Linked DNA regions of Homo sapiens. The protein of the gene in region 1 interacts with the protein of each later gene in a biochemical or structural test. Each region holds a gene or a part of one and is shown in the gene's direction. Other genes may lie near its edges.

What was found.
Region 2: the proteins of UBE2J2 (region 1) and RNF145 form a complex in vitro, tested with the Homo sapiens proteins (one study listed by BioGRID).
Region 3: the proteins of UBE2J2 (region 1) and HERC4 form a complex in vitro, tested with the Homo sapiens proteins (one study listed by BioGRID).

The regions. Positions count from the first base shown.
Region 1 is NC_000001.11:1,263,828-1,270,987, reverse strand, and holds part of UBE2J2 (ubiquitin-conjugating enzyme E2 J2), read left to right. Parts: intron 1-2,995; coding exon 2,996-3,126; exon of another isoform or gene 3,127-3,218; coding exon of another isoform or gene 3,219-3,255; intron 3,256-4,697; coding exon of another isoform or gene 4,698-4,890; intron 4,891-5,397; exon of another isoform or gene 5,398-6,157; coding exon of another isoform or gene 6,158-6,205; intron 6,206-7,160. UniProt on the Homo sapiens protein: Catalyzes the covalent attachment of ubiquitin to other proteins. Seems to function in the selective degradation of misfolded membrane proteins from the endoplasmic reticulum (ERAD).
Region 2 is NC_000005.10:159,206,442-159,213,888, reverse strand, and holds the start of RNF145 (RING finger protein 145), read left to right. Parts: upstream 1-4,335; 5' UTR 4,336-4,658; intron 4,659-4,750; exon of another isoform or gene 4,751-5,992; coding exon of another isoform or gene 5,993-6,004; intron 6,005-6,062; exon of another isoform or gene 6,063-6,089; coding exon of another isoform or gene 6,090-6,134; intron 6,135-6,240; exon of another isoform or gene 6,241-6,411; coding exon of another isoform or gene 6,412-6,414; intron 6,415-7,447. UniProt on the Homo sapiens protein: E3 ubiquitin ligase that catalyzes the direct transfer of ubiquitin from E2 ubiquitin-conjugating enzyme to a specific substrate.
Region 3 is NC_000010.11:67,988,284-67,995,283, reverse strand, and holds part of HERC4 (probable E3 ubiquitin-protein ligase HERC4), read left to right. Parts: intron 1-2,601; coding exon 2,602-2,678; intron 2,679-2,960; coding exon 2,961-3,085; intron 3,086-4,084; coding exon 4,085-4,144; intron 4,145-4,268; coding exon 4,269-4,380; intron 4,381-4,883; coding exon 4,884-5,073; intron 5,074-6,448; coding exon 6,449-6,621; intron 6,622-7,000. UniProt on the Homo sapiens protein: Probable E3 ubiquitin-protein ligase involved in either protein trafficking or in the distribution of cellular structures. Required for spermatozoon maturation and fertility, and for the removal of the cytoplasmic droplet of the spermatozoon.

The DNA.
Region 1 (7,160 bases):
GGGCCTGGGGAGTTTCCAGTACAGGCTAGGCTGGGAAGCAGCTGTGAGAAGGAGTGTGTCGGTCAGGACTTTGGAGTGGGACCTGGGCCGTGCTGGGTCTTGGGAGTTGGGAACGAGGAGGGCTGGCTGGGGCTGCTCTGTCTTGGGAGCTGGGAATGAGGAGGGCTGGCTGGGGCTGCCTCTGTCAAGGGGCTGGCAGGCAAGAGGACGTGTTGATGTTTATTTGCTTGGCTGTGGAGTATCCTGAAGGGTGGATGGGGGAGTGGGTGATCGGAACAGTATGTTGACTTATGGGTACAGGAGGGCCTTGAAATGGGAAGAGACTAGAAGCTCAGACCTTCTGGACCCACGGGGGGAGTTGGGAGGCTCCTGTGGTGTTGATGGGAGAAGTGATGACATTTTGCGTTAGAGAAGATAATGAGAGTGGGAAGGCTGTGGTGAACAAGGATTGCAAGAGTCAGGGACCCCAGAACAAGAAGCAGGGTTGGGGGTGGTGCTGAGGCCACACATTTGGGAGCACGCGTTGGGTGCCCTGGCTGAGCTCTGCACTCCAGGCCCTGGGTGTGTGGGGTGAGCAGCCAAGCCCTGGCCATTGACATCCTCAGGTTGGGAGCAGACACTAAACAGGCTGCTGGTGGTGGTTCTCTGAGGAGGAATAAACCGGTTAGAGAGGCCAAGTCTGTAGATCTCTTGCAGGTGGAGACTGAAAGGAGGTGGAATGTGTGGCTGTCTACAGGTGTATGAGTTGGTTCTCATGCTGCTATAAAGATGTACCCGAGACTCAGTAATTTATAAAGAAAAGGGGTTTAATGGACTCACAGTTCCGTGTGGCCAGGGAGGCCTCAGGAAACTTACAATCATGGCGGAAGGGGAAGAGGCATGTCTCACATGGCAGCAGGCTAGAGAGAGCGGGCAAGAGCAGGGAACACTGCCTTATAAACCATCAGATCTCCTGAGAACTCGCTTTCACTGGAACGGCTTGGGGAAACTGCTCCCATGATCCAGTCACCTCCCACAAGGTCCCTCCCTCAACATGGGGGATTATGGGGATTACAAGTCAATATAAGATTTGGGTGGGGACATAGCCAAAGCATATCAGCAAGGAAACTGGGTAGAGTAGACTTCCGGTTTGTGGGAACTGGGAGGTCAGGATGGAGATCACTGGTCACTGTCCGTTATCGATGGCCACTGATGTCCACAGACGTTATTAAATCGTGTGGCCATGGCTGGGCGCGGGGACTCACGCCTGTAATCCCAGCACTTTGGGAGGCCGAGGTGGGCAGATTACCTGAGGTCAGGAGTTCGAGACCAGCCTGACCAACATGGTGAAACCCCGTCTCTACTAAAAATACAAAAAAAATTTGCTTGGCATGGTGGCAGGCACCTGTAATCCCAGCTACTTGAGTGGCTGAGGCAGGAGAATCACTTGAACCCAGGAGGCAGAGGTTGCAGTGAGCGGAGATCACACCACTGCACTCCAACCTGGGCAACGAACAGTGAGATTCTATCTCAAAAAAAAAAAAAAAATAAGGTTTGAGTTGGAGCTAGTCTGATGCAGCAGGGAGCCCTGTTTTCATCACCACCCCTCTCCCCAGTCTCAGGTGTGGCTGAGGGGCCTTGGGGTCCCTGATCCAGCCTCCTCTCTTGCATGATGATCACCACCCCTCTCCCCAGTCTCGGGTGTGGCTGAGGGGCTTTGGGGTCCCTGATCCAGCCTCCTCTCTTGCATGATGATCACCACCCCTCTCCCCAGTCTCGGGTGTGGCTGAGGGGCCTTGGGGTCCCTGATCCAGCCTCCTCTCTTGCATGATGATCACCACCCCTCTCCCCAGTCTCGGGTGTGGCTGAGGGGCCTTGGGGTCCCTGATCCAGCCTCCTCTCTTGCATGGTGCCTCGCGCCCCATGCTCGGCCTTCAGTGCTGTCTTGAACGTCCCAATGGAGCCACCAGAGTGACTTTCCTAACAGAAGATATGATCTGCCTTGAGGCTTGGACCCCAAACCCCTGTGGGGCCCGGGTTACCGTGGCTCCTGCCTGTGATTCCAGCACTTCCGGAGGCTGAGGCCTGAGAATCAGTTGAGGCCAGGAGTTTGAGACCACCTTGGGCAACATAGTGAGATCCCAGCTCTACAAAAAAAAAAAAATTAGCTAGGCGTGGTGGCATGCGTCTGTAGTCTCAGCTACTCAGGAGGCTGAGGTGGGAGGATTGCTTGAGCCGAGGTGGTCAAGGCCACAGTGACTCCAGCCTGGGCGACAGAGCAAGACCCTGTCTCACGAAAAATAAGTAAATAAACTCTTATGCCCTGGCCCTGCCTCCCTGGCCAGTCTTATCCCTGCCCTCACTGTGCTTGGGCCCTTGCACACTGCACTTTCTCAGGTGTGGCCTGTTCACCTGTGGCCCCTTCTACCAGGAAGACAGCTGCTCTGCCCAGTGAGTGCCTTGGAGTCTCCAGAGTCCTCGTCCCTCCAGCCGCAGAGGCTCCCCCGTTCTGCGGCTCGTTTTGCTTGTGGCTAGTGGTAAATGCTGGGCAGCGGGCTTCCGGGTGCGGTGAAGGGGCCGGCGGTGGTGCCTGCCCACTTCTATGGTGTGGATTCTCCATCAGTGCGGGGTCCTTGAGCTGAGTTGGAAGGTGCGAGTAGCTGCCCTCAGGAGCTGGTCTGAGGCTGTGGCCCGAATACCCCCTCAAGCCCTGTAAATGTATCCCTGCGTGAGTTTTTGGAGGACAGGAACGAGGCTTTGGGTTTCTCCTCGTCTTTGTACCTGAGCTGTACGTCGTGTCAATGAAGGTGGTGGCGGGACAGACGGGAAGAGAGAAGCCGCAGGGCCTCTGGGTGTCTGGGCGGGTGGCAAGCGAGGGTGACCTGTGAGCTGTGACTCTGGGTGACCGGGCCCTGAATGAATGGCGGGCTGCAGAGGCGGGAGTGGGGCTGCGCCAGGGGAGAGAGCTGTGGCCGGCGCTGCTTCTCGTCGTCAGTGTAGACGTTGCTTTTAACAGATGAGCAGCACCAGCAGTAAGAGGGCTCCGACCACGGCAACCCAGAGGCTGAAGCAGGACTACCTTCGCATTAAGAAAGACCCGGTGCCTTACATCTGTGCCGAGCCCCTCCCTTCGAATATTCTCGAGTGGTAAGGCTCCGCGCCACTGATCGCCCTGCGCTGACTGTCGCTGCCACGCAGGCCTCTGCCGGCCCCTGCTGGGCGAGCCTGGTGCCCCAGTCATGGCATTGGCAAGGTGCTCCTGCACCCTCCCCCGGGGTGAGTGGGGTGCCCAGGGGCCTGTGGACACTCTCTGGTCTTTTCCCAATGGACGCATGCCGGGGACATCACAGAGCCATGCTTGACTCAGGCTGGGGCTGGAGAGAATCTCCGGTGTGGGGCCCTTGAGGGGGGCGGGGTCCAGGTTGACTCAGGTTGGGGCTGGAGAGAGTCTCTGGTGTGGGGTCCTTAGGGGAGGGGTCCAGGTATGCAGGGTTCACAGCTGTTGCTGGTGTGCACTCTAGGCACTTAGAGGAGAAACTGCCTTTCTAGACTCTGCTCTTTGCTTCTGGATATGGGAATTAGCCTGTTTTGGCTTGGAGTATTTGACAGGACTAGGGTCCGACACTCCTGTCCCTGGCACTGGCTTGGGCCAGGTGCCCCGACCCTCAGGCTGACAACGAGAGGACCTGTGCCTCATAAGCATTCACCTCATGGTGACTCTCCCCCTTGCTGAAGTATAGAGTGTGAGAGTGCATACTGCTCTGTCGAAACACTGCCATTACAGGTCTGCTAGTAATTTGGTAAGAAATAAAGTGTGAGAGGCCGGGCATGGTGGCTCACACCTGTAATCCCAGCACTTTGGGAGGCTCAGGCGGGCGGATCACCTGAGGTCAGGAGTTCGAGACCAGCCTGGTCAACATGGTGAAACCCTGTCTCTACTAAAAATACAAATATTAGCTGGGCATGATGGCGCACACCTGTAGTCCCAGCTACTCGGGAAGCCGAGGCAGGAGAATCGCTTGAACCCGGGAGGCGGAGCTTGCAGTGAGCTGAGATCACACCACTGCACTCCAACCTGGGCAACAAGAGCGAAACTCTGTCTCAAAATAAAATAAAATAAAATAAAATGTAAGGATGTTTTATATTTTGATCTTTTAAAAAAAAATTACTTATTATTATTTTTTGAGACAGTCTTGCACTGTCACCCAGACTGGAGTGCAGTGGCACAATCTCGGCTCACTGCAAGCTCTGCCTGCCGGGTTCATGCCATTCTCTGGCCTCAGTTTCCCAAGTAGCTGGGACTACAGGCGCCTGCCACCATGCCCGGCTAATTTTTTGTTTTTGTATTTTTAGTAGAGACGGGGTTTCACCGTGTTAGCCAGGATGGTCTTGATCTCCTGACCTCGTGATCCGCCCGCCTTGGCCTCCCAGAATGCTGGGATTACAGGCGTGAGCCACCACGCCCGGCCTTATTTATTTTTTTGAGACAGAGTCTTGCTCTGTCGCCCAGGCTGGAGTGCAATGGCGTGATCTCGGCTCACTGTGACCTCCGCCTCCCTGGTTCAAGCAATTCTCCTGCCTTAGAGATGGGGTTTCACCATATTGGTCAGGCTGGTCTCGAACTCCTTATCTCAGGTGATCTGCCTGCCTCAGCCTCCCAAAGTGCTGGGATTACAGGCTTGAGCCACCATGCCTGGCCTAATTTTTTTTAATTCCAGAGAAAAGATATTTCAGTGAGTTGAAAGGAAATGTGTTTCGGCTTGGTCAGGGGTCCACCTTCTCTGGCTCACAGAGGAGGCCCAGCCCAGGCAGGCGGAGGATACCCAGGGTGAGGCGGAGCCCCTTGGCCACCAGAGTGCTCTCTGCCCCCAGTGTTGAAAATCACATGTGGCCCCAGGACATCGCTGGCAGGTGAGAGGGACAAGTTCCACGGTAGCCGCCTCCTCGCTGGTTGCGAGGACGTCTTCATTGTGTGGGGAAATCCCTCCCCACAAATCTGTGGGTCAGGCGTCCCCAAGTCCCGGTGCAGGTTCGATGATTCACAAAGAATACTCACCATTAAAATTACGGAGAGAAGTCCAGGCACAGTGGCTCATGCCTGTAATCCCAGCACTTTGGGAGGCCGAGGTGGGTGGATCACAAGGTCAGGAGATTGAGACCAGCCTGGCCAACATGGTGGAACCCTGTCTCTACTGAAAATACAGAAATTAGCCCGGTATGGTGGCGCACGCCTGTAATCTCAGCTACTTGCTACTTGGGAGGGTGAGGCAGGAGAATCGCTTGAACCCGGGAAGCGGAGGTTGCAGTGAGCTGAGATCGCACCACTGTACTCCAGCCTGGCGACAGAGTGAGACTCCACCACACACACACACACACACACACACACACACACACACACACACACAATGGAGAGAAAACACACACACACACACACACACACACACGAGAGAAAACTGCAGTCAGCCAGCGGAAGAGGCATGTGGGGCAAAGTCTCTGTGCTCCATTCCCAGCAGCAGGCTTGGGTTTGGACGGCATGTGTGGAATGTTGAGCAGAGAAACTCATTGGAAACTAAAACATTAGGGGAAGGCCCAGGGACTTTATGGGGCTGGTCCTAGGCACCCTCTGCCTGGCACCTGCCAAAATACCAAAATACCAGACTTCCAGGAGAGCAGGGGCTCAGCGTAGCCCATGTTGCCTGTACTGTTGAGGCATTAAGGACAGCAGCGTCAGTGCGAGAGCCCCTGGCAGGTCCTCGGCAGGTGTCTCTCCCTTCCCCGAGAGAAGACTGCTTTCCCAGAAAAGGCCTGTGGGGTGCGCTATGGGCCACGTGGATCCCATCTTCTCTCAGCCGCCCCAAGGCTGCTGGGCTCTGTCTCAGGAAGAGGATGACTTCTTCATTTCTTCCCAGTTTTCGCAGGTTGGGCACAGTAACAACGTAAGGCCACATTCCTGGGTGCATCGCGTGCTGAGCTCAGAGCCACTGGGTTCCTGGGTCAATGACACATGATAATGGCATTTTTTGAGTAAAACATACCAGCTGGCTCTGCTGATACATCATCCCATTAGTATACATTACTATACGTCATCCCATTAGTAGTTTCTTTTGAGTACTATTTCTGTCACTCAGGCTGGAGTGCAGCGGTGTGACCTCGGCTCACTGCAACCTCCGTCTTCCAGGTTCAAGCGATTCTCCTGGCTCAGCCTCCTGAGTAGCTGGGATTACAGGTGTGTGCCACCATGGCTGGCTAATTTTTGTATTTTTAATAGAGACAGGGTTTCACCGTGTTGCCCAGGCTGGTGTTGAACTCCTGACCTCAGGCAATCCACCTGCCTCAGCCTCCCAAAGTGCTGGGATTACAGGTGTGAGCCACCGCACCTGGCCTAATTTTTGTATTTTTAGTAGAGACGGAGTTTCGCCATGTTGACCAGGCTGGTCTCGAATTCCTGACTTCAGGTGATCTACCCACCTTGGCCTCCCAGAGTGCTGGGATCACGGGCATGAGCCACCGAGCCCAGCCCCCATTAGTTTTAAAGTGATGGCACACATGTCCTGGGGCAGAGCAAGGGGAAAGATGATGGCCGGTGTTGGCCGGTGTTGGCAGTTGAAGCCATGTCTGGTTTCTGGCATTTCTAGCTGGTTTTACTTTCTTCTCTGTGCTCTTCTGTTTCGTTTGGGAATCTGTAAAGCCCAGACACTTCTTTACGTAAAGCAGAAGCCTTATTTATTTGTGTGGAGGAGTGTTTAGTCGATTTGCTGCTGCCCCTGGTCTGAGGGTGAGCTCTGTGTGGGGACTGTGGCTTTGGACACAATCACGGCAGTTCCTGTTCCTTCTGCTCCAGGACAGCTGCTCAAGTCACTTATGGTTTTTCCAGGAGCACGAGAAAGGGCTGGGGGTACCGAGCCGGCCCCGCATCACTAGCTGTGTTCTGTTTAGCCTGCATGTGTGATATCAAAAAACACATTATATATAAGTACATTTAAGAATATACATTTCAAAGTACATCGTTTTTTCTTTGGAGATAGGGTCTCACTCTGTTGCCCAAATGGGATGTGGTGGCACAATCATAGCTCACTGCAGCCTTAAACTCCTGGGCTCAAGTGATCCTCCCGCCTCAGCCTCCTGAGTAGGCGGGCTGCAGGCATGCACTACCACACCCGGCTAACTTTTTTTTTTTAAAT
Region 2 (7,447 bases), on another chromosome or scaffold:
CGAAAAGTGTTTATTCAGCACCAGCTATGCGTATGAATCACTTAGTGTTAATATAAAGTTACAATTTCATCTTTATCTCCCTATTAGAGAATAAAAGTTGACAATCAAATACTACAGACAGAAGGAAGGGAACTAGGCCAGGTGCTGTGGCTCATGCCTGTAATCCCAGCACTTTGGGAGGCCGAGGCATGTGGATCACTTGAGCCCAGACCAGCCTGGGCAACATGGCAATATCTTGTCTCAACACAAAAATTAGCTGGTGTGGTGGCGTATGCCTGTAGTCCTAGCTGCTCAGGAGGCTGAGGTGGGAGGACTGCTTGACCCTGTCTCGAGGAAAAAAAAAAAAAAAGAAGGAGGGGGAACTATTGAGGACTTTGTACCAAGAATATTAGCACACATCACTTCATTTATTTTTCACAACAACCCCGCAAAGTAGATATTATCACTATCCCTATTTTACAGACAATAAATGGAGGTGTTCTTAAGTTACGTACACTTGGCACAGGGTCCCATAGCTAGCAGATAGGAAGCATCTGAATAGAAGAGTAAATCTCTCATATACTGCTGGTGGGAATGTAAAATGATGCAGCCACTTTGGAAGACTATCTGGCAGTTCCTCAAAAAGTGAAACCATAGAGTTACTATATGACCCAGTAATTCTACCAAGACAAATGAAAATGTGTCCACACAACAACTTGTACATGAATGTTCATAACAGCACTATTCATAAATGCCAAAAAGTGGAAATAACTCAAGTGTCCATCAACTGATGAATGAATAAGCAAAACACGGTATATCTATCTACACAATGGAATTTTATCTGGCAAGAAAAGAAAATTAAGTACCAATACATGCTACACATGCATGGACCTCAAAAATGTTAAGTAAAGTAAGCCAGACACAAAATGCTACATATTGTATGATTCTCTTTATATGACAAGTCCAGAACATGCAAATCTGACAGAAAGATTAGTGACTGCAGAACAATTAATGATTGCTGAGGGCTGGGACGAGAAGGTAAGCAACTGCTAATGGATATGGGTTTTTTTTTCCCCGGCGGGAGGTTATGATGAAATGTTCTGAAATTGATTGTGGTGATGGTTACACAACTCTGAGGATATACTAAAAACCACTGAGTTGTACACTTTAAAACAGGTGGATTATATGTCAATTAAGCTGTATATATATATATATATATATATATATATATATGAAAAAAAGAGTGAACCGCCCTTTACCGAATAATGTTGCCTAACAAAACTATAGTTTTCCTTATAGAGTTGGCTCTCAAAATCAAACCATGAGGGTAGCCAGGTTGAATGGATTCTATATATTATCTAGACTCTTCTAATTAGGGAGTTGATTATTGAATTGGATATCTTTGAATATCTGGTTGTTTGAATTGGATAAAGAAAACCTCAAAGTGCCCAGAAAACATTAGGAACAAGAAAGTGTGTGAAGAAATGAAGACATGAAAATTCTCCCTCATATTCCCAATGCTGGCTATCCAAGGTTCTTTGGATTTTGGCCCCAACATGTGAAATCCGTTATATCATTTTCTCTAGATTTAGAAGGCAGTGCATAATAAAGTGGCCATCAGTTCCTGCGGATTTGCAACACAAGACTATTTCTATGTGACTATTAGCAATAGTTGGCTCTATCAGGAATTCAGGAACGAGTCTTTTGGAATGGCTAGAACTGGAACATATATGCACTCTTTCAAACTTTGTGCTGACTTCCTCCTCAATGTTGGATGCATTTAGACAGGAAGGAAGATAACCTTTCGAATCCTGAATGGTCTGCCATTGGGCAGTCATAAACATACCACTTCTTTCCTTCTAGCACCCTGGGTAAGTTCCTTTTATGACCAAGCTGTGGCATTTAGACATTTCCTTATGTTTCTTCCAGGTACTTAAGGACAAATTTAGCTCCTGGCTTTTCCTGATTTGGGTGGGTTTGGGTGCCTCTAGAAAGTACTTCCTCTACACTTGATTGAGCTCTTTTATTTGAGCTGCTCTCGATTCACCCGCCCCACCCCCACTTCTTTTTTCTTTTGCGTTGCTTTTTAGTTCTGTTTAATTACCTGCTTCTGGCAATGTGGAGCTTTCCCATAACTGGATTAGCAGCACTATAATAGCAGTAACCCTTTCATTACCAGAGTAATTTTCTTTACTTGTTTTGAACTTCAGCATTTACAGGCAGCTGCTATTAAGTTAAAAGGTAAAAAGACATGTGACTTTTTCCTGCTTTTACAAGTCCAGAATACTTCCAGTGAGGGTTACAGGGCTTTGAAGCCATTTTCTCCACTTTAAAAAAAGGAAAGGTAAGAGCTGAAGTAGGCCTCTCCTCCATTTAAAACACAAATCCAGTTAGAGACCAGCCTGACCAACATGAAGAAACCCCATCTCTACTAAAAATACAAAATTAGCCAGGTGTGGTGGTGCATGCCTGTAATCCCAGCTACTTGGGAGGCTGAGGCAGGAGAATTGCTCGAACCCAGGAGGCGGAGGTTGCGATGAGCCAAGATCACGCCACTGCACTCCAGCCTGGGCAACAAGAGTGGACTCCGTCTCAAAAAACAAACAAACAAACAAACAAAAACCACGCAAATCCAGCAACCATACTTCCTTTTAGAATCACATTTTCAGGATTCTGCCATTTATCCAAGAATAATAAATAAATAAAGTTAGAATTTAGTGTTACGTTCATTTTGACTTCTTTGTAATCTGTTTCTGGCCTTAGGTTTTCTTGACTCAGTCAGATGTAAAGTTGTTAAAACAGGGAGGGGATCAAGATAAGGCCTTGCTATCTTGGTCCATTTCCTATTCCAGTCATTATTCATGTGACCTCTGTAATTTTTTTACTTACCAGGCTAGATTAAGAGACTCATGAACTGCATCACTGGGATGTGACAGGATTTATGACTATGGTGAAGTAGTCTGAGGCACCTGGATGAAAGGTGGTTATAGTGAGTTATGTACACAATTCCCACACATTTTAAACACTTGATTCCTACAGAGCTATCAAACTAATGGAAGGCAAGTTACTCAGAGTTTGGTTGACTGATACCTCCAGGGATTGCATTTTCTAAATACAGAGCTTGCTTTCACAATTTCAGCAGGATACAAGAGTGTTCAGAATTGGGGGTTTACCATTCAAAGGGCAGAGGCCAGAGACTTGAATTTACAAGGAGGGTCCTCAACACAGACATCGAGATTACAGTACATTAATTTCTCTTGCACATGAAGAAGTTGAGGCTTCACAATTTCAGCATGACCCAGTATAGTTGCAACATCTTACCCATCACTGGGTGTGTATCTTCTGTGTACACTGGCCCTTTCAACATCTAAGGCCAGGCTAGGTGCTCATAGCAACTGGCTCCCCAGGAACTAACGAAAGAGAAAGCAAGAAACAGTGGAGGGGTTTTGGTGATGGTGGAAGGCAGGGGAGATAGAAGTGGGGGTTGCAGAAGGTCGTGGTGAGGCAGAGTGGCAGACAAATGGGGAATGAGAAGTCTTGCCAAGCCCAGAAGACTATCGTTGTGTAAACACACAATATGCTTCAGGCTATGTATTCTGGGCAACAGTTCCTGCCCTAAAAGGTGTGGACATTTAAATTAGGGTAGGATTGCGCATTCTGTGATAGAGACTGGCACAGAGACAAAGTGGAACTCCTCTACGTTGGGGAGGGGAAAACATACATTAGCCTGTTTTGAACCTTAGACCAAGACAAGACAAACACACAAACACCATTTAATTTCATACTGCAATAAAATTCTTTGTACCAAACCATGGGATCAAAATTGTTACAGATACTCAGTGAACAGTTCCAATGCATTCATTCATCCAGTCACTTACTCCACAGGGGTTTGAGTGCCTGCACTTGGTGCTGGGCACGGCTGAGCCATCCCAGACGCCAAGGAGTTTACAGTCTAGTCCAGTCAGTGACGAGGTTAAAACGAATTCTCGCATCATTGCTACTGCGAATGCACCGGGACAGGATCAGCCCTTCAAATTCTCCCACGTGGTCCCTGCAGGTGAGTGTGGGTGTGAGCGCTTGCGGCCCGTGGTGTTTGGGAGTGAGAGAGCACGTGTGTCAGAATGGCGCCTGTCACAGTGCGCGTCCAGGTGTCTCTGCAGTACGCCTCTCCATAGCCACCCGAGCCGGGCTGTATGGGCTTGGCTAGGCTTATGTCTCCCGCCCACGCACCGGAGGCGGTGCGGAAAGCACTCCGCGGGCGCGATTGTGAGTGAGCGCGGGCGCGCGCGGGAGGGGCGCGCCGCGCTGGCTGGGCCGCGCGCAGGCGCAGAGTGCGGAAGTCGGGCCGCGGCCGCCGCAGAGCGCCGGGGGCGGGAGGAGCAAACGCAGGAGGCCATGGCCGCCGACGCCGGCGCCGGCTGCTAAGGGGCTCGGCCCGCGAGCGCCTGCTGCCGCGGACGATGGTGACCGTACGGGCCGGGCCGCTGCCGCTGCCGCTGCCTCCGCCTCCCCAGAAGCAACATCCGAGGCTCGGCGCAGAAGAGCCGCCGCTGTGAGCCGTGCCGTACCGGCCCCCGCCGCCGCCCGAGGAGAACGGGAGGGCGGGCGAGAGAGCCGGGGAGTTGCGGAGCCCGCCCGCCGGCAGCGCCGCTCCCCAGGGAGGGAGTCCGCAGCCTGAGGTGACCACGCCGCCCGCCCGGCCCCTTCCCATCCCCGCGCCCCCCGGCCGCTTCCCACGGCCTCCCTCCCCTCCCCCATCGCGTCGCAGGCTCCTTCCTCTTCTCCCTGTTCGCCCCTTTCCTTTTATCTCGCTTCACCTCCCTCTTCTCCCTAGCATTGGAGGAGTCCACATCCCCTCTTCAGCCGCAGCACCCCTCCCTCCCATCCTCTAGCTCTTCCCGCGGTGGTCGCCTCCCTCCGACCCTGCTCTCCCCTCCTGGGCCCCGCGCAAAGCCCCCTCTGTTCCAGCTCCCGGGCCTCGGCTGCCTCCCCGCCCTCCCATCCCTTCCTCTTCCCAGGGCCTGGAGCGCTCCCTTACATTCCTGAGATGCCCTTCCTCGGGGCTGTCCCCCTTTGCCTCCCCAGCATCCCATTTCTAGGCCTTTTTCAAGACCCTTCCAGAGCGGCCCCTTTCCAGCTCCCTTTCTCGTTTCCATTTCCAACTTTGCCTCTTTTGCCTCTTTGTTCACTTTGCTTCCAAGCTCCCCTCCCTCTTTCCCTTCGTCTTACCCTGCTTTGATCTACGCAGCCCCAAACTCAAGCTCCCCGCTTTCAGGTGGTGCGAGGTTGTTTGGGGGTGCGGAAGGGCCTGCCAGTCCATTTTTCGAGGGGGGCCCATTGCTCTGCATCCCGTCCGTCAGTCCCTTTTATAGTAAGAGGGCTCCTCATCCCTTCCTTTTTGTCCCCGTGGTTTCCTCTGTCTTGCCATCCCTTCTGTCTTCTCCCTCCAATACTGCTTTCCCCACCCAAGGACCCTCAGACCCGTGAACCCCCTTTCTGGAATGAGTTCCCTTTCTGTTCGGGGATGCTGAACTTCGCCCGCGTTTTTCTTCGCGAGCCTTTTGGTACGTGGCGTGGCGCGACAGAGTCAGCACCCTTGGCGAGATAGGAGGGGAGCTCTCGAGCCTCTTTCCTGGAAGAGTTTTTGCTGAACGTAATCTCTTAGCCCCGCGGCGGCGGCGGCCCGGTTGCTGCTGCTACTGCTGCTGCGCTGCCTGCTTGCCGCGAGCTGGGTTGGGGTTACTGTAGTTCAAACGCATCTGAGATCTGCAGGCGTTGTGGGAGGAGGTGCGGGGAGAGAGGAAGGGGCCTGTGCAGTGAGCAGGCATCAAAGATTAGTGGATGGCCTTGCGTCGCAGTCTGCAGTAAAGAGGAAACTAGTCTGAAAGGGAAGGAGAGGACTGTGTGTCTTTTTATTTTTTAAAATACGGAGTGTGCAGTTTTACTGAATCTTGAATCATGCCCAAAAGAATGAGCTGTCGGTGCTGCAGTCGTGACCCAGGCTGAGCGGCCGATGGCAGAGGTAGCAGTTTTATTTCCTCTCTCTGTTCCTTAAGTTGAAAGATGGCCTTTGTATTCAGAGTAGACTCCCTGTCTTTGCGGTTTGGGAGATGATGAGAAACCACAGAATTGCTAGTAGTTTATGTGGAGATCAGGTACATACAAAGTTAGCTAGCAAGGAGTGGGAGTGGGGAGGACCAGCTATATTTAAAACATGTGCCATTGCTTATGTAAGAAATGCGTTCTCTTTCCTGGTATCTCAGTTCTGGGCTTTTACTTAGAATTTTAGGCTCTAGCTTTGTGCTCTTAACATTTTCAGTGAGGCCTACCATCCTAACCGATGGACAGCCCGAAAATTTACTTTTCTTAAGATCAGTTTTAGTTGATGGTAGAATTTTTTTTTTTAACTGGTTGGGAGAAAGAAAGGAGATAATGGTGAATGATGATTTTTGTTTTTCTTTTTTAGGGGGAAGGTGTAGAAGTATTGTACTGAATAGTTTTAAGTTGGGTCACGTGTCATTCTTGTTTTTTCTTTGTCTTTTTAAAAAAAAGTTTAGGAGGTGTATTTTTGAAGAACTCAAATAAGAGAAATAAAAAATCACATTTTTCATTTCTCTTATTTGACATAGTTCTTCAGAGATTAGCTGTGACTGTAAAAACCTACATTTTTCTTATTCAGGACGATTTGTTTGGTTTCTTCATATTCAAAACTAAAATCCCGTATTTTCAGGAAAGTGTAGAATGAAGCCCCCTGTGTTTTCTAACCCACAAATTTGAATGGTAAACTGTACAGCATTATACTTCTACAAGACATTACTGTTTTCATAATTACGGATTGCTGCTTCTAAGCCTGAGAAGGTCATTTAATGAACTCATTGAGGTCTCCTTTTTGGTTAGCATTTGTTGCACCTCTTGTGGTTTTTGGAAAGAAATGCCTTTTTTTTTTTTGGTTTGTTTTTAGCTGTTTTACTGTGTAAAACATCTTTGAGTCACATTTAGTTTATGTTACCTGCAGACACATCATGTTGGATATTACTTTCCCAGTTCTTTTCAAAGTTCAAGGAGGACATTTTAAAATCTTGCATGGAAGATAAAACAGTATAGGAAGTTTATGTATTTGGCTTTGGGTGTGTTAAACCTTTCGGTTTTTTCTGCTTTCAGCTCTCCTGCTTATTTTCTAGGATTATTTGGTATTATTTTGTTTTCAAGAGAATATTGAGCTCCCCTGTACTTTAGGATATGCTGATTAGCCCTGTTTGACAATAAATCTGGAACAGGATAAATTAGGCAACATTATAAAGGTATTCTCTAGATCAGGAGAGAAGGCTCCATTTTACTTCGTGTTTGTATGATATAGTGATTTGGCAGGTGTGAGTAATTGCAAGTACTTGCAAAGAAGATGAATATTTTAAAGTTTTGTTTTGATGTTGGTTTAGTGTGTGGTGCTAAAGTGTAGTGTAAAGTACCT
Region 3 (7,000 bases), on another chromosome or scaffold:
ATCAATGCCTACTACCACCACAAAAAAGAACTCAGTGAAAATTCTTCTCAAAGGAATTATGTGTTTCCTGATGGAACTACTCTCCTGCCTCCATGTAGTAGTTTTACTGAAATAACCAAATGGTGATTGAAACCTGTCTAGATTCAACCACCAATTTACAGAACAGAAGACCAAGCCAAATGTTAGGAGAAACCACAAAGATAAAGTCAGCAAAATCCAGTCTGCATAAAGTTGTACAGGACAAATGACTAGGTTTCTCAAACTTTTTCGAGTAGTGATTAAAAGGAAATTAAGGATAGGATGCAGTGGCTCACACCTGTAATCCCAGCACTTTGGGAGGCTGAGGTGGGCAGATCACTTGAGGTCAGGAGTTCGAGACCAGCCTGACCAAAATGGTGAAACCCCATCTGTACTAAATACAAAAATTAGATGTGGTGGTGGGCGCCTGTAATCTCAGTTACTCGGGAGGCTGAGGTTGCAGTAAGCCGAGATCATGCCACTGCACTCCAACCCGGGCGACAGAGTGAGACCTGTCTCAAAAAATAAAAATAAGGCCAGGTGCAGTGGCTCACACCTGTAATTCTGACACTTTGGGAGGCTGAGGTGGGCGGATCACCTGAGGTTGGGAGTTCGAGACCAGCCTGACCAACATGGAGAAACCCCGTCTCTACTAAAAATAAAAAATTAATCAGGAGTGGTGGCCCATGCCTGTAATCCCAGCTAATTGGGAGGCTGAGGTGGGACAATCGCTTGAACTTGGGAGATGGAGGTTGCGGTGAACCAAGATCGCGCCACTGCACTCCAGCCTGGGCAACAAGAGTGAAACTCCGTCTCAAAAAAGAAATAAATAAAAATAAAAAAAGGAAATTAAGGAAACTTAACTTTTGGTACCTAACTCATAGCCTCCAGAAACCCATTCATGTACTGTAGATTAGTCAACCATCTTGTAGGGAATTGTTTATAGAGGGCACAATCACATTTTAAGAGTAAATAAATAACATCCTGCTAAATCTTTTGAGGAAATGAGCAATTCCATATAGATTTGTGAGAATTATTTAGAAAAAAGATTTTAGGTTGAATAATTGGCTTATTTAATAAAGATTTACCCTTTTATTCTATTCTTAAAACTTGTTTTTGGCCTTAGGGTATTCTTGTGACTTACGGAAAATTTGATAGTAATTATCAAATTATTGTTCTAAACTCTGAAGCTCATTTTTGGTATAACCTAGATAACAATTGCATATTTGTATGGACAGGTATTTACTGATTTCTTTTACAAATAAAACATTGTGCTTGCTTGTAAGGAATAATCAAGGAAATTAACATGTGGTCATTTCCTTGAAAAGAATGGATAATTCTATAGCAGCCATGGTCACAAATAATACAAGGTGAAGAATTAGTCAACTAAGGAATGGGAATAGGATAACAGGGATAGACTATGGACTAGCCAAGCAATATTTTTGGTAATAGATACTCTTTCCAGTTTGGGGAGCAGAAGAAAAGAAAAAAAAGAGGCCCGGAATATCTTTTTCAAAAGAAACTTTGTTGCCCTTTCTTTATTCCTAATAAATTTGCTTATTAATGTATTCACTTTGGGGCCTAATTTGGCTTTTACTGACAAATAGCTGCCAACAAAGAGCTGTATGTATTATCTTGTACACCTATATTGAAAAAAAAAATTCTGCATTATGAAATATTTACTCCAGAAGTTTTAATTTTTGTTTGCTGTTTCTTTTTAAGAATAATTTTTTTTTTTTTTAGAGATGGGTCTTGCTATGTTGCTTGCTGGAGTGCAGTGGCTAGTCACAGATGCAGTCATAGCATACTGCAGCTTTGAACTGGGCTCACGCCATCCTCCTGCCTCACTCTCCCAAGTAGCTGGGACTACAGACATGTGCCACTGTAGCCCAGTTCAATTCTTTCTTTTTTTTTTTTTTTTGAGGTGGAGTCTTATGCTCTGGCCCAGGCTGGAGTGCAGTGGGGTGATCTCGGCTCACTGCAACCTCCGCCTCCTGGGTTCAAGCGATTCTCCTGTCTCAGCCTCCCAAGTAGCTGGGATTACAGGCACACACCACCACGCCTGGCTAATTTTTGTATTTTTAGTAGAGATGGGGTTTCACTATATTGGCCAGGCTGGCGTCGAACTCCTAACATCAAATGATCCTCCCACCTCAGCCTCCCAAAGTGCTGGGATTACAGGCATGAGCCACTGTGCCTCGCCAAGAATAAATACTCTTGATTTTTATTTCCTTCTAGCTATCTTTTGTAGCTTTTGTTCTATTTTTTTTAAATCATCTTTGGTTTAAACTGAAATATACTGAGATGCAGATTAGAAAAAGCTTTTTTTCTTGGTGCAGGGCAGAAGAAAGGCTTGTAAACTTCACCAAATGCTGCTTATGCTTGTGGGATCGTTTAATGTTCATCATTTGGTCAGTCTCATCCCCATAGCAGTCAGAATATTTCAAGTCACTTTATACCATGAAGTCCATGAATGGGAGGCCTTATTAAATAAGATGATTATGTGAAAATCTAATGGCATATTGATGCTCTGAAATATGTTATGTAAATCTTGGCTTTTAATTTTTTACATTTTTATTACAGATTCTGAAGAATATTTCTGTGTAAAAAGAATTTTCTCAGGGGGAGATCAAAGCTTTTCACATTACTCTAGTCCCCAGGTAATAATATAGTCATGTAAATAATTAAATAGCTCCAATAATTTTGACAAATTTTAAAAACCCATTATTAATGTTCTTTATATGTTACAAAGTAATTGCCTTAGTTTTTTTCCCCTTAAGTCTACAGAATAAGTTTTTTCTGATCTATTTGATAGGTTTTTGTTTCAGGTGTTCAGGAGAGATTTAATTCTGTTTAAAGAACAAATATATGGTGGGAATTTCTTGGTTTTTGAGTTATATATAATATCTCTTCCCTCTGACTAATCTTATTTGAAAATTTAGAACTGTGGGCCACCAGATGACTTCAGATGTCCCAATCCGACAAAGCAGATCTGGACAGTGAATGAAGCTCTAATTCAGAAATGGCTGAGCTATCCTTCTGGAAGGTTTCCTGTGGAGATAGCCAAGTAAGAAAAGCATTTTGGGCCAGGCACAGTGGCTCATGCCTGTAATCCCAGCACCAGGCAGATTGCCTGAGCCCAGGAATTGGAGACCAGCCTGGGCAACATGGCAAAACCCTGTCTCTACAAAAAAATACAATTAGCTGGGCGTGGTGGTGCACACCTGTGGTCTCAGCTACTTGGGAGGCTGAGGTGGGAGGATCAGCTGAGCCCAGGAGGTCGAGGCTGCAGTGAGCTGAGATTAACACCATTGCACTGTAGCCTGGGCAACAAAGTGAGAACTTGTCTCCAAAAAAAAATATCCATGGATATTTTTAAAGATCTTAATTAAATATGTATAAGTTGTAGTTCTTTCATGTGCATAGAGATATGTTAAATGATAACATAAAATATTTAATGTAGCCATTTTAGGATTGGCCTTGAAATGTGTTCCTTCTGGTTTTATAATGGTCACTATCTTAACTTTTATACTTTGTGGAAGACTTGAGTATTATTTCTTTCTTGAATATTTTGTTAACTTGCCTAGTAGCACTTAAGATGTTATTTGTTTTTTGTTGGTATTTGGGATGATGGGTTGTATTTGAAAAGCTGTTTTGTTTCTCTAGCTTGTTTTCCAAAACTATAATTTTTCTGAAAATCCCAAAGGCATCCCAGATTAGGCTCACTGCCAATATAAAATGTTTAAAATTTTTTTAAATTAAAAAACTTTTTACATGAACATACACACTTAATTTTTAAAATACCATGTTTTAAAGCAGATAACATTGGATAAATGGATGAAAGTAATATTTAAGAAAGTCTAGAATAAACAGTAATACCTTCATCAAGTATTATTTTATCAGTCTTTAGCAATTTATGTAATTCTGATTCATCTAATTGGGTGTTAGAGGAGTGCTCTGTAGCATTAAACATTAGATTAATTATTCATTTTAATTCTTTTTTAAGAAAGGGTAAACAATTAAATTTCTGATTCTATGATTAAAAAAACTTTTTTAAATTTTTTAGTGAGATAGATGGAACGTTTTCTTCCTCTGGTTGCCTAAATGGAAGTTTTTTAGCTGTTAGGTAAGTGGCAATTCTTTAATATGCTGAAATTTTCAAATTTATTGTCTTAAATAGTATATCAAATTAAAAAATGAAATAATTTTAAATTTTTATTCTATTTTTTTTTTTCTTTTCTGTTTTTTAGCAATGATGATCACTATAGAACAGGTACCAGATTTTCAGGGGTTGATATGAATGCTGCTAGGCTTTTATTCCACAAACTTATACAACCTGATCATCCGCAGATATCTCAGCAGGTCTGTTTTTAAAGTATTATGTTTACAGTATTATCTGTTGATTTTGTTTTCTTTTGTTTTATACGTTTATAGCCTAATTTACTTTGCAGTTTCACAGACTCTTACGATGTGCTTTTAAAATAAGATTTTATTTTAAAGCATTTGTAATTTAGCTGTCAAAGATCTATAAATCTTTTCAGATGTTTGAAGCAGACCCTGAATTACTTAACATTACCACGTTGCTTAAGTTTGTGTATGGTTATAGAGGTAGAGAGTTTAAATTGAGACTTGTACACGTGATTTTTTAAATTCTCCAAGTAATGCTTAGGCATTAATTTTCATTGTGCTCCAAAGTATATTCATTGTAAGACATTGTCTTTCTTTTTTCTTCTTCACCATTTCATATTTGCTGTAGTGCAAAATTTTCCTTTTCTTTCTTTTCTTCCTGCCTTCCTTTTTTTTTTTTTTCTTTGAAAGTGTATTCATTTTAAATGAAGTAGGTTTTACTTTTTGTCAAAATATAGGTGGCAGCTAGTTTGGAAAAGAATCTTATTCCTAAACTGACTAGCTCCTTACCTGATGTTGAAGCATTGAGGTTTTATCTTACTCTACCAGAATGTCCCCTGATGAGTGATTCCAACAATTTCACAACAATAGCAATTCCCTTTGGTACAGCTCTTGTGAACCTAGAAAAGGCACCACTGAAAGTACTTGGTAAGAATTCTAATATTTTTTCTTTTGAAACCTTTTCTCTTTAAATGAAAATGCTTCATAAGTTCTTTTGCCATTTGCAGTTCTGCTGCCCTGCTTATTTGACACTGTCTTAGGCAAAAATGAACCTGTTTTTCCTTTTCTTGCTTTTGTCTAGTCTTTTGATTCTAGTTGTTGGAGTTGTTGAAAGAAAAACATGTTAGATATAGAAGTTCAATTAAACATAACAGCAGAGACAGTATTAGGAAAGTTAAAAACTGTCACCCGTATTCCTTTCCCTCATCGCCTTTAGTATAATCTTGCTATTAAAGAAGTAAAGGAGGAGGAACAATTAAAACTGAACAAACATGGGCTTTAAATCTTCTTGGAACCCTGATATAAGCCCTTTATCTTGTGTTTCCTTCACTTGCTAATTTCATGATATTTGATTTTATTTTTCTGCCTATAGACTAGATTTTATTGCTCATCTGATCTTGCACTTCTATCTCTTACTGTTCTGGTTTTTTGGCATAAAGTTTTCTCACTTTAATTTTTCTAATTGTCTAGATTTTATCTCTATTTCCTGGCCTTTATACTTTTTTTGCTACATTTAACCCAGTGCTTTTCTTTCTAATGGTATTTGTTAGATATGTGGAGCTGAGATATATAGAAGTAATAATGTCAGTACAAGAACTTTAAGGCTGAGGGTAAATGGAGGAAGCAACAAGCAAGGGGTAGAATATGGGAATCTGAGGGAAAAAGAGTCAAGCAGGGACTGAAAAGAGTATTGCTTTCCTGTTGTCAGAAGTTTTTGTATTCTTTCTGCCTGCTTCATAGGATTGAAGTGTTTGTACTTAGTAACTACAAATAGTGAATGTGGGGAAGGACCCATATGTTACACTTTACATTGTTCAGCTTCTGTATTTGATCTTCAGGAGTACCTTGCATTTTAAAGGTAGTGGTTCACAATATTTCAACCATATATTAAATTGAAAGATAAAAGTTAGAAAGATCCTTTAGTATTAGAGCAATACAATTTAAAGGATGTTTTGTTTAAAAATTGAAACTGTAATTTTCAAAACATTTTTTAAAAACTGGTTTTAATATTAGGTATAGTGGTGAGTTTTTTATATAACTTAGGAAACCAAGAATATAAATTCAACAAGACTTTCACACTTTATTTTTGCTTTTGAGAGCTTTTCGGACAATATTGTTTAACTTGGTCGGGGGGAGGTTTATAAACCTTACAAATGTTACATAAGATATTGTGTTATATGCATCTTTCTGGGGTTTTCTCAGGTTTAACAACTACTGTTTCAGAAAAAAAGTCAGTATGATTTTGAAAATTGTGATTTTTTAAAAAATTCATTTTATTTGCATGTTCACTTTTTAATAACAGAAAACTGGTGGTCAGTACTTGAACCTCCACTATTCCTCAAGATAGTAGAACTTTTTAAGGAAGTTGTGGTACATCTTTTGAAACTCTACAAGATCGGTATTCCCCCTTCTGAAAGAAGAATTTTCAACAGTTTTCTTCATACTGCATTAAAGGTTTTAGAAATACTACATAGGGTATGTCCAATCATTCCTTTATTTTCCTCTTTCCCCATTCCTATTAACAGATTGATACTGTTCATTTTAACATTAATCTATTAAAGATTTAGATTGGCAAAAACAATGCATATTATAGAAATTTGGAAAAGTTATCTATACTTTCTCTTAAAAGAAGTAATAAACCTGTCCTTTGGAGCTCTGGTCTTACCTGACTTTGTTAGGCATGTATAGATAACTTATCCATAGTTGGGCAGAACAATAACATACTAATGAGTTAGAATTCTCCTTATATTTCCTTATGAAGAATATAATTTGTTAGTTTGCATTATATGGTTTTTGTTAGCTGTAAGTGGTTATCTTGTGAAAGAGATTGGGTCCTAGTTGTAATTATGAACAT